Homo sapiens: one gene and its partners. The protein of the gene in region 3 interacts with the protein of the main gene of each other region in a biochemical or structural test. Each region holds a gene or a part of one and is shown on either strand. Other genes may lie near its edges.

The links.
Region 1: the proteins of PDK1 (region 3) and FGFR1 form a complex in vitro, tested with the Homo sapiens proteins (one study listed by BioGRID).
Region 2: of the proteins of PDK1 (region 3) and AKT2, one has a biochemical effect on the other in vitro, tested with the Homo sapiens proteins (one study listed by IntAct).

The regions. Positions count from the first base shown.
Region 1 is NC_000008.11:38,420,061-38,423,707, reverse strand, and holds part of FGFR1 (fibroblast growth factor receptor 1 isoform 1 precursor), read left to right. Parts: intron 1-1,766; coding exon 1,767-1,911; intron 1,912-3,647. UniProt on the Homo sapiens protein: Tyrosine-protein kinase that acts as a cell-surface receptor for fibroblast growth factors and plays an essential role in the regulation of embryonic development, cell proliferation, differentiation and migration.
Region 2 is NC_000019.10:40,233,228-40,236,874, reverse strand, and holds part of AKT2 (RAC-beta serine/threonine-protein kinase), read left to right. Parts: intron 1-489; coding exon 490-618; intron 619-770; coding exon 771-985; intron 986-1,524; coding exon 1,525-1,612; intron 1,613-1,727; coding exon 1,728-1,830; intron 1,831-2,923; coding exon 2,924-3,003; 3' UTR 3,004-3,647. UniProt on the Homo sapiens protein: Serine/threonine kinase closely related to AKT1 and AKT3. All 3 enzymes, AKT1, AKT2 and AKT3, are collectively known as AKT kinase.
Region 3 is NC_000002.12:172,601,039-172,604,685, forward strand, and holds part of PDK1 ([Pyruvate dehydrogenase (acetyl-transferring)] kinase isozyme 1, mitochondrial isoform 2 precursor), read left to right. Parts: 3' UTR 1-3,647. UniProt on the Homo sapiens protein: Kinase that plays a key role in regulation of glucose and fatty acid metabolism and homeostasis via phosphorylation of the pyruvate dehydrogenase subunits PDHA1 and PDHA2.

The DNA of each region.
Region 1 (3,647 bases), on a different chromosome or scaffold from region 3:
ACATTCCATTTGAAGCAGTGATTCTTTTTTTTTTTTTTTTTTTTTAATCAAATGCTTTGGACTTTTGAAGTCCACTTGTTCTGTACTTGTAAAAGGGAAAGAAGGCCGGGCGCAGTGGCTCACGCCTGTAATCCCAGCACTTTAGATCACTTGAGGTCAGGAGTTTGAGACCAGCCCGGCCAACATGGTGAAACCCCATCTCTACTAAAAATACAAAAATTAGCTGTGCATAGTGGTTGGCACCTGTAGTCCCAGCTACTCAGGAGGCTGAGGCAAGCTAACTGCTTGAACCCAGAAGGCAGAGGTTGCAGTGAGCTGAGATCACGCCACTGCACTCCAGCCTGGGTGACAGAGTGAGTGAGACTCTGCGTTAAAAAAAAAAAAAAAAAAAAAAACTAAAAGGGAAAGGTAATAAATCTCACTTAACATCTCCCTTCGCTCCCTGGGCCTGCCTGAAAGTTACACGGGAGCAACGTGCGTGGCCACATCTCAGCTTTGCCCAACTGACTGGTGTGTCGTTGGTTTGTTCCAGCATTCGGGGATTAATAGCTCGGATGCGGAGGTGCTGACCCTGTTCAATGTGACAGAGGCCCAGAGCGGGGAGTATGTGTGTAAGGTTTCCAATTATATTGGTGAAGCTAACCAGTCTGCGTGGCTCACTGTCACCAGACCTGTGGCAAAAGGTAATGGGGAGATGGATGGGACCCTGTGCTGGGGATTTGATGTAGGCCCCAAGCTGCTGGGGCAGGCGGGGAAGCCAGTACTGGACTGTCCTTGCCACCCTACTGTATTTCTAGTGCCCAGAGCCATGGAAAAATACCCGGCCTGGGAGGCTGGTTTGGTTTGGTATTGTGTTGGTGTCTGTGGGTTCCCTCTCTGCCTTCTGTGTGTTCCTTGGCTTTGTGTGGATCCATGTGAGGACTCACGGGGACACGGTTTTGCTGTGTTACAAATGGTACTTCAGACTGAAGTTGTGAGTGAGTGGTGATTAAGAGAAGGGGCCATAGGCCAGGCACAGTGGCTCACGCCTGTCATCCCAGCACTTTGGGAGGCTGAGGTGGGAGGATCGCTTGAAGCCAGGAGTTTGAGACCAGCCTGGGCAACATAGCAAGACCCCATCTCTACAAATTAAATAAATTAGCCAAGTATGGTGGCGTGTGCCTGTAGTCCCAGCTAGTCTGAAGGCTGAGGCAGGAGGATTGCCTGAGCTTAGGTCGAGGCTGCAGTGAGCTATGTTTATGCCACTGCACCCCAGCCTGGGTTGACAGAATGGTACCCCATCTCTTAAAAAAGAGAGAGAAGGGGTTAGGCATTCCCTTGCATACTCGCATCTGCTGGCTGTGTATGCACATGTGCGTGTGTGTATGCGTGTGCATGTGTGTGTCTGCAGCCCCCGCCATCCCTCCTGTGTTCACCTTCTGGCTATCTTTACCTGAAACCAAACAGCCCCTGCCCGCCGGCCCCATTTCTCCATGCCGCTCACCGCCCGCATGCTCGGATGGGCCAGTGGCTGCCAGCATCTGGTGAAGGGTCGTAACCAGCCATCGTCTTCTCAGGTCTGCCGGAGTTCTTCCCTCAGGGTCTCACCCTCTTCCTCTAACAGGTTTTGCTGCCTGGTGGTTTTCGTTTGTTCCTTGTTGCAAAGAAGATGTCAGGGAGCATTTCTTCCTCTAGTCCCCCTTCTTTCTGTCTCCTTCCCTTGCTCTGCGTCTCTTAGAGGTCTCATGTCCTGTGCTTGTCCATTTTGCTTCCGTTGTCTCTTCTAGACTGCTGGAGTTAATACCACCGACAAAGAGATGGAGGTGCTTCACTTAAGAAATGTCTCCTTTGAGGACGCAGGGGAGTATACGTGCTTGGCGGGTAACTCTATCGGACTCTCCCATCACTCTGCATGGTTGACCGTTCTGGAAGGTACACACTGTAACTTCTCCTCTCGATGTCCTGCCCTCGCCACGGGCACGGGGGGAGCATGCATTTCCAGGCTTGGGGAGACACAGAGGCAGGAGAGCTGGAAGAATGGGCTCCTGCCTGCCTGGTGCCACATCCTGCCCCAGCTTTGAGGGCTGAATCCTCTCAGCTCAGAGAAGAGCTTCCCTAGTTTTGCAGGCGCACGGAGGCCTCCCACCCGTACACCTGCCTCTGCTCTCCCCCTGGCCATTGCAATGCATGCCCGGGATCTGGGTTTACCCTGCAGCCCGACTCCTCCAGGGCAGGCTCCTTCCGTCCTTGGGTCCAGCAGCCTCCCCCCTCCGCTGGGTACTGAGCATCTGAAAAGTCTCAGATAGGGCCCTACACCTCTTCTCCCTTCTCAAGTGCTCAGCCCAGGGGTGGGGCTTGCTGCTTGCAAAGAGCAGCCCACCCTCCTGTACTGCCATCCTATTGCCTTTGAAGAAGGAGGTCAGCCTGGACAGGTGAACTGAGTTGCCTTCAGAAAGGCCTGTCTCAGGCAGCCGCAGCAGGCTTCACGATGTCCATGTATCCTGTTTGCCTGCTGCCGTCTCTCCTCTCCCAAGAGGGGAGGTCTGCGTGTTGAGCCAGGGAGGAAGGAGCCTGCAGCCTGCTCAGGGTGGTGGCTGGTGACTGCGGGGCCAGGGCTTGCTGCTGTCTCTCGGAATGTCCTGCATGTGGGTCTGGCTGTTCCTGCTGGCACTGCCCTCTTCTCTCTCCCCTCCTTTCCCACTCTGCCCTGCTTGCCCGTCAGGGTCTCCGGATGCCCCTGCTGGAGGCAGAGAAGCGTTCTGTTTTTATCATCGTCCCTGTCTTGGTCCTGTCCGTGCTCCCCATGTGCTCCCAATCAGTTGTCTTCGTTCCTCAACATCAGGGAAAGAAAAAACAGCAACACTTCTCCCTGTCATCAGCTCTGCTGTCTCCTTGTCAGGCCTTGGGACGTTCTCTGGGCTCAGTCTAGGGTCGTGCCTCATGCCTCATGCCTCTCTGGGAAGGTTCCCAGGGGCGCCGCCTCCATGGTTGGCTGGTGGGTTTTAAAGGGGAAGGTTGGGAGGAGGCCTGTGGAAGGAGGAGGGCCGTCCACACCCGTGGGGCAAAGCGTGTTCCATGAAACCAGTGCTGTGCGTGCTGGGATGAAAGCCTCCCAGCCTCTCGTGCTGAAGGGAAAGGTGGACCGAACTGGCTTAGCTGCTGTGGCAATGGGGTGGGGGGTGAGTCCTAATCAGAAGGTGGGAGAAGAGAATAACAAAATGGAACTCCGCCCCCTGCCGCCACATTTCCTTAAGTTTTAGGAGTTGGGGCCTATGAGTAGAATTTGAAAGAACTACCAAAAAAGCTTATTTTTGGAAATTAAGTCAGCTTTGCCTGTGGTTTGGCTAGGAATAAATATTTACCTGTGTGCCCCTACAGAGATGACACAGACCCAAAGTGGGACATTGAGCAAGGCACAGGCTGGTTCCCCTCCTGTCCTCTGTCCTCATTCTGTGAGTGCCACCATCACCAGGTACTGTGGCCTGCAGAAATAAACGAGGCACCAACCCTGCCCTCAGGGACCCCGTGTCTTCTTAGGGACAGAGGACTCAGAAACATCTGTGTCCCCGCATGTTAAGTGCATGCACACAGTGCTGAGGCTTTGCAGAGAAGGGCCATGGCTCCCTGAGGAGACCAAGAAAGGCACATAGAAGTGACTTCTCAGCTGG
Region 2 (3,647 bases), on a different chromosome or scaffold from region 3:
TCATATTAAGAAATATGGAGATGGGGTCTCGCTGTGTTGCCCAGGCTGGTCTCAAACTCATGGGTTCAAGCAATCCTGCCACCTAAGTCCCCCAAATTGCTGGGATTACAGGTGTGAGCCACTTTGCCTGGCTGCATATTTCATAATTAAAGGACAGAAAGTCTAGAAAAAAAGAATAGAAGAAAGCTAGTGCCCCCACGTTCGAAATAAGAACCACAGTTCACAATGGGGACGGTGGGTGGACAGGGCCTGGCTCTCGGCTCTCCCTGCCCAGCTGTTCCCAGGTACCATGGGGGTGGGCCAGAGGGTGAGGAGGGTTGGATCTGGCCTCTCTCTGAGCCTCAGAGGGTGAGGCTGTGTGTGCTGGGCCCAGCCTGGCATGGGAGGGTTGATGTCCAGGAGCCCCGGGCATCTTTCCCTGGAAGGAAAGGCTGGGGTGGCAGGAAGCCTTGGGAGCATGCACCTGAGATCCGTTGACTTTTCCAACAGCTGGAAAACCTCATGCTGGACAAAGATGGCCACATCAAGATCACTGACTTTGGCCTCTGCAAAGAGGGCATCAGTGACGGGGCCACCATGAAAACCTTCTGTGGGACCCCGGAGTACCTGGCGCCTGAGGTGTCTGGGGTTGGTGGGGGTAGGAACGTGTGAGGCCAAGGGTAGGGGGATCCCCCAGACCTGTGTGTTTCCAGCCCAGATGCCCTGAGGGCAGGACTGTGATGCCAGCCTCAGGGCCACGGGCCCAGCCCTCATTTCTCCTCCATCCTCAGGTGCTGGAGGACAATGACTATGGCCGGGCCGTGGACTGGTGGGGGCTGGGTGTGGTCATGTACGAGATGATGTGCGGCCGCCTGCCCTTCTACAACCAGGACCACGAGCGCCTCTTCGAGCTCATCCTCATGGAAGAGATCCGCTTCCCGCGCACGCTCAGCCCCGAGGCCAAGTCCCTGCTTGCTGGGCTGCTTAAGAAGGACCCCAAGCAGAGGTGAGGGCTGGCGTCGGCCCCACCCAGCCCAGCGCCAGCTGCTGCCACTGTCCCTGCGGCCTGGAGGGGGCAGCGTCCACAAGGGTGCTCGCTTGTAGGGTCGCAGTGTGTCGTCCCCACACAGCCCCTGAAAACGTCCACAGTGGCACTTAGGGAGTGCTTCCCCCAGGGCAGGCCCATCCTTGACACTGCCTTATTTTATGGGGACACTGAGGAACAGGGCATCCCCTGGGCCTGGCTGGGGCCACCAAACCATATGTGGCAGAGCCAGGATAGGAACGGAGCCTGCCCTACTAACTCCCTTTCTGGACTCAGGGTAAGGCCAGGCAGTGAGGACACGTGGGTCCGGGTTGCTGACTCCCTGGCTCTGACCCTGGGCACGTGAGCTCCCTCCCTGAGCCTCGGTTTCCTCCTCTGTGAAGTGGTTTGTGGTCAAGACAGAATCATTAAGGGCCATACAGGGCCTGCCTGCTCCGAAAGCCCGTCTGCCCGAACCCAGCTGCTCCGGGAGGCAGGTGCTGACGGCCGTCTCTGCACAGGCTTGGTGGGGGGCCCAGCGATGCCAAGGAGGTCATGGAGCACAGGTTCTTCCTCAGCATCAACTGGCAGGACGTGGTCCAGAAGAAGGTGAGCCCCACTGCTTGCCCCAGCAGGACCCTCAGGGACCTGGCCCACTCGTGGTGACCTTGGTTGAGGCCTCCTGGCCTCAGGGTCCCTGAGCCTGAGCTCCTCTCCTCCGTAGCTCCTGCCACCCTTCAAACCTCAGGTCACGTCCGAGGTCGACACAAGGTACTTCGATGATGAATTTACCGCCCAGTCCATCACAATCACACCCCCTGACCGCTGTGAGTGCCTGGGGCCCCCGCGCTGGTGTGCCTGCCCCAGGGGTGGAGGGATGGGATCTGCTCTTAACTCACTTCTCAAGGAGGGCCCTCGAAGGCCCCCGCTTCATGTCTGGGAGATTTCCCCAAGTCTGCTCTCAGGCCCTTTTGCTGTTGGTCCTCTTTGGACCTGGTGAGGCCACCAGGAGCCATTGACTGCAGCACGTTCTGGAGCTCAGTCGGGGGGCTCAGGGCAGGAGGCAGCCCGGTCCCTGAGCCTGGCTGGGTTCACTGCTTTACAGCTGTTTGGGTTCTTACTCTGAACTCAGCCCAGGGCTGGGCTATGCTGGGGACACAGCACTGATTGAGCCAGCCCTGGGCCCTGCCCTGGAAAGCTCCCAGCCCAGGTAGGGTGGGCGGCCTGGAGTGGTCAGGGCTAGGGCGTGGGAGGCCAGGGACTGGGGAATCCCAGAGGAAATATCCGACCTGGCCTGCAGTTAGGGAGGGCTTTCTAGAGGAGGAAGCAAACGTGTCAGCTGGCCGGAGGAATGACGTGTGGGATGCCAGCAATGGGAGAAGCATGGCATAGCTAAGGACCGGCAGCAGCCAGGGAGATGGTGGTGAGAAGAGAGGGCATGGGGCTGGAGTGCAAGGGTCTGGGGGCCACTGGGAGGGGTGGGGACTGCTTGCATGGCGGGAGCCAGCCATGGAAGGGTTTCATACAGAGAGGGACAGGGTTAAAGCAGGCCTTTAGAAAGCCCCCCTGGCTGCCCGTGGAGAATGGATGGGAGGGTGCGAGAGGCAGGCCAGGACAGGGCTCTGGGCTGGACTCTGGCATGGTGGTGTGTGGGGCAGAGAGAAGGTGGGAGGCTCAGAAGGCCCTGCCAGCTGTGGGGCGCATGGGCAAGGGCACAGGAAACTCCCAGAGGAGGCCGCCCGGGGCTCAGGTTTGGGGAGTGGGTCCGTGGCTGAGGGCCTCCATTGCGGAGGGATGGGCCTTTCCTGTCCTGTCCTGTGGGCAGCCCCCGCCAGCTGGGGCCGTTTCCCCAGGGAGTCTGGGCAGGTGTCCCAGGCCCTCTCCTGACTGGTCCTCCCCATCCACCTCTGCCGCCCACAGATGACAGCCTGGGCTTACTGGAGCTGGACCAGCGGACCCACTTCCCCCAGTTCTCCTACTCGGCCAGCATCCGCGAGTGAGCAGTCTGCCCACGCAGAGGACGCACGCTCGCTGCCATCACCGCTGGGTGGTTTTTTCCCCCTAACTTTTTACTTAGCCTTTTTGGTTTGTGTCCCCACCCCCACCTCCTCACCCCCTTTCCAGTTCTTCTTCAGGCCCCTCCCAGACGCACCCCAGCGGCCCCTGCAGCCCCTGCCTCCAGCCTCCAGCCTCACCTTTGTGCCCAGACTCGCATTTGGAAGACTCCACCTCCCGCCCAGGCCTGGGCTGTTGGGCGGTTGGAGATTCAGGTTTTAATCCACACAAGCCCCAGTGAGGGGTGAAGCATGGCGCCTGGGGCCTGCCTGAGTTTCTGGCCTGGGTGTCGTGCTGGTGTCTGCCTCCGCGCTGCTGCATCTGGACGAAGGCTGCCTTCTGGTGGGACGCGACACCCGGCAGACAGTGGTGCTGCCTTCCAGGCCCCGTGGCCTAGGCTCGGAGTGGCCAGGCACGGGGCGGTCCAATCCCCCACCCGCTGTCCCCCTATGGGGGCAGAAAAGCAATAATGTCCAGGGGCAGGCAGGGGCCCTTGGGAGCTGCAGGGCTGGGGGTTAGGGCTGCTCCCTGGTGAATGGAGTCAGATCCTAGGATCTGTACCATGGGGAACCAGGAGTGGCCGGGCTGG
Region 3 (3,647 bases):
TTTGTTAAAAGAAAAGTTTTCTGCCGGGGACTCGCTTTACCCTGTCTACCTAAATTCTTTCTGCCTTCTATAACAATTGTATGCTCAGTAAATACATAAGGAATAATGAACTTAATAACATTTTTTTCCATTCTCAAAATGATACTTAAATGACTCAGTACAACAAAGAAACTGAGTAGTAACCAGTGCAAAACTAGCAAAAGGATGAAATACACAAGAAAATGAGAGAATTTAAGAGGAGTAGCAAAACAGCACTGCTAAAGTTACGGGTTTATTTTAAAGTTTAAAATAGAAGTAAACAAGCAAACATACTGATAATGGTTAGGCTTTCTGTCCCCACCGCACAAATCTCATCTTGAATTATAATCTCAACATGTTAAGGGAGAGACCAGATGAAAGTAATTGGATCATGGGGTTGGTTTCTCCCATGCTGTTCTCGTGATAGTTCCCATGAGATCTGATGGTTTTATAAGTATTTGGTAGTTCCTCCTGCATTCATTCTTCCTGCTGCCCTGTGAAGAGGTGCCTTCCACCATGATTGTGAGTTTCTGGAGGCTTCTGCAGCCTTGCGGAACTGTGAGTCAATCCTTTTTATTATAAATTACCCCGTCTCAGGCAGTTCTTTATAGCAGTGTGGGGATGGACTAATACTCGCTGGGTTAGCTGGGGTAGGTAAAGCCACAGCTGTGGCAGCAACCAGCTAGTGGGTGTCCCTTGATGGAGGCTTTGCAGGCTGCAGCAGAAGGGACCCTTCAGATAAACCTCCAGTCAGGAAAGGAAAAGGCCCAAATAAACAGTATTTAGATTTTTTTTTAAAGGACATAACTACCAATAGAGATTTAAAATAATCATAAGAATACCATTAACTTTATGATAAAAATTTTGTAAGTGGAGAAGAAATGGATATATTTCTAGGAAAACAGTAGAAGATCCATCTAAGATTTTGACAATTTAAATCAACCACTAAGGAAGTGGAATCAGTAATCACAAGTCCACCTCGCCAAAAGACAATTTTTGAAAGATGAATGTTACCAAAACATCAAGAAACTGATAATTCCTGTCTTATAGAAACTTTGAAATGAGAGAAAGCTACCCAACCCATTTCAGAAAGTTAGTAAAATCTCAAAGCTACACTTGAGCAAAGACTGTGAAATATTAATAGACCAATCTTGTTTATGAACATAGATGGAAAAATTGCTGATGAAATATTGGCACATTGAATGTAGCAGTGCATAAAATATTGTATCATGAGCAAAAGGAGAATCTTTCCCAGGAACAGGAGGATGTTTTAATAAAAATATGTAATTTACCTCTCTACAGATTAAAGGAGAAAAACTATATGATCACATCAACAGAAACAGGAAATTCAGTTTCTTTGGGGGATAGTTGTAATTAAAAGTGCTTAACTCACTTATATAAGCCATTAGTGGATGTTACAATAAACCTCGTATAGTGTCAGATGTAAGACAGACATACTGGAATTGTCTATGAGGTTGGATCCATGGGCCTGCCATGGAAAATTTGTTGAGTAATACGTCCAAGGCGTCACCATTTGCCAGGCGTTGCAAGTATCACCATTTGCAAGGTGTTAACAAAAAGTTACCTGCCTATGGATTCTCCTTTCTAACTCTGACCTAATATTTTGGAGCATAGAGGAAAGAAACATCTTATGTTTCTGTGTTTGGGTAAACATTAGACTTATAAAAGGGCCTAGGGTTTTTTTGTTTGGTAAACCATTGCCTTTCCTGCTTTGGTGTGGCAAATCTTCCTTTGGAGAAAAAGGTCCCTTTAATCTTAAAACCAACTCTCAGTGACCAACAAAAGCAACAAATAGGAACAACCACCCATTAAGAACCATCAGGTGATGCCTCATTTGCTGTGGTGCACAGCTGAACTTGATTGTTACTCTTGGATCAGGGTTGGCTTGATAAGGACTCACTTAACCAATGGAAAGTAAGGTTAAATCTTTGTAAGCAATGCTCCTGATGCGAATCACCTGGAGATCTTGAGCAAATGCAGACTGGTTCAGCAGATCTGGAGTGGGGCCTGAGATTCTGCATTTCTAACAAGTTTCCTGGTGATATTAATGCTGCTGGTCTGTGAGCCATACTTTGAGTAGCAAAGGACTAAAGGTTGTGAGATAAACTGCTTTTAGCAGCCCAAAGGGCCAGCTGGAAAGACGAGACCAGTTACAGAGCAAATGGCAAGACAGATCTGGTAATCTGATTCTTAGAGTACTTAAAAAAGATAAGAAGGATCTATTCCTGATATACAGGGTACTTGGTGGATGTGTCCATGACCTCGAGATCGAAAACCCATTAGTTAATCTTTGTGACATCTGAATTTTAAGGATCTTACCCAGTGAACATATAACTAGTGGAAATCCTGATAATTGGCTAATGCAAGGAAGTGATACCCATGTGTAATGCTTATCTTTGTATCCATTTCATGGGGAAGGTCATGGAAGACGACAGCAAACTTGAGTGGTTAATGAGAGCTTCACTAATGTTGTCTGCTGCAGGCAATAAGTGAAGTCTCTGGCAGTGGGAAGCATGGACCCAAGACCGAAAGCTCTGGCACTTTATAGCAGTGGTGGGGGGTAGATAGGACTTAGTGTGGCCCCTTAAAGAGCAAGGTCCAAGTGATTTTCTCTGGTGAATGTCGATGTGGATCTAGTCTCCAGGGTTAGATCCAGGCAGGTAACATCAAAGTCAGTTGATAAGACCTCTTATGCCTGTGAATGGAAGGCCCTGATAAAACTTCATTATTAATGTTCTGCATTAATTTAGCGGATGACTATAGTCATTTCACATAATCTAATACATGAATGTCCTGTATGGGTGACTGCTGAGGGTTTAACAAAGGAGAGTCCATTTATATTTGGCTGGTAAGATCGATGCTTCTGTCACTACTGATGGGCAAGGATATTAACATCAATATCTAAAAAAATTCTGAGATTTGGATTGTGATGTGTTAAATTTCTAGACCAATTTGAGGAGAATTTAACAATAGCTTTTCAATTTATGAACATGGCGTATATCTTTTTTGGCGGGGGGTGAGGACAGAGTCTTGCTCTGAGATTACCCAGGCTGGAGTTTAGTAGCATGATCTTGGCTCACTGCAACCTCTGCCTCCTGAGTTGAAGCAATTCTCCTGCCTCAGCCTCCCCAGTAGCTGGGATTACAGGCGAGCGCCATCATGCCTGACTAATTTTCGTATTTTTAGCAGAGACAGGGTGTCGCCACCTCAAGGGATCCACCTGCCTTGGCCTCCCAAAGTGCTGGGATTTATAAGCGTGAGTCACCGTACCTGGCCAGACATAGCATATATCTTCCTTTACATAGATTGCCTTTGATTTCTTTCATTGTTACTTTGTAGTTTTCAGCTTACAGATTCCGCGCATATTTTGTTAGACTTAAATCTAAGTATTTGCTTTTTTTTTAACTTACAAATTTTTTTAAAAAAACGTTTTTCCTCTCCAATGTTCATTGCTAATACATTTCACGTTTGAATCTCCAGTTCAGAAAAATCATGGCCTCTGGAGTTTTACTGAGGACTAGAGATAGCTAAGTAACATAGTTCCACCTTATTCACTTGGTCTTTGATGTGGTGTCCATAATTGAGTAAATGGCAGTATGTCCAATGGC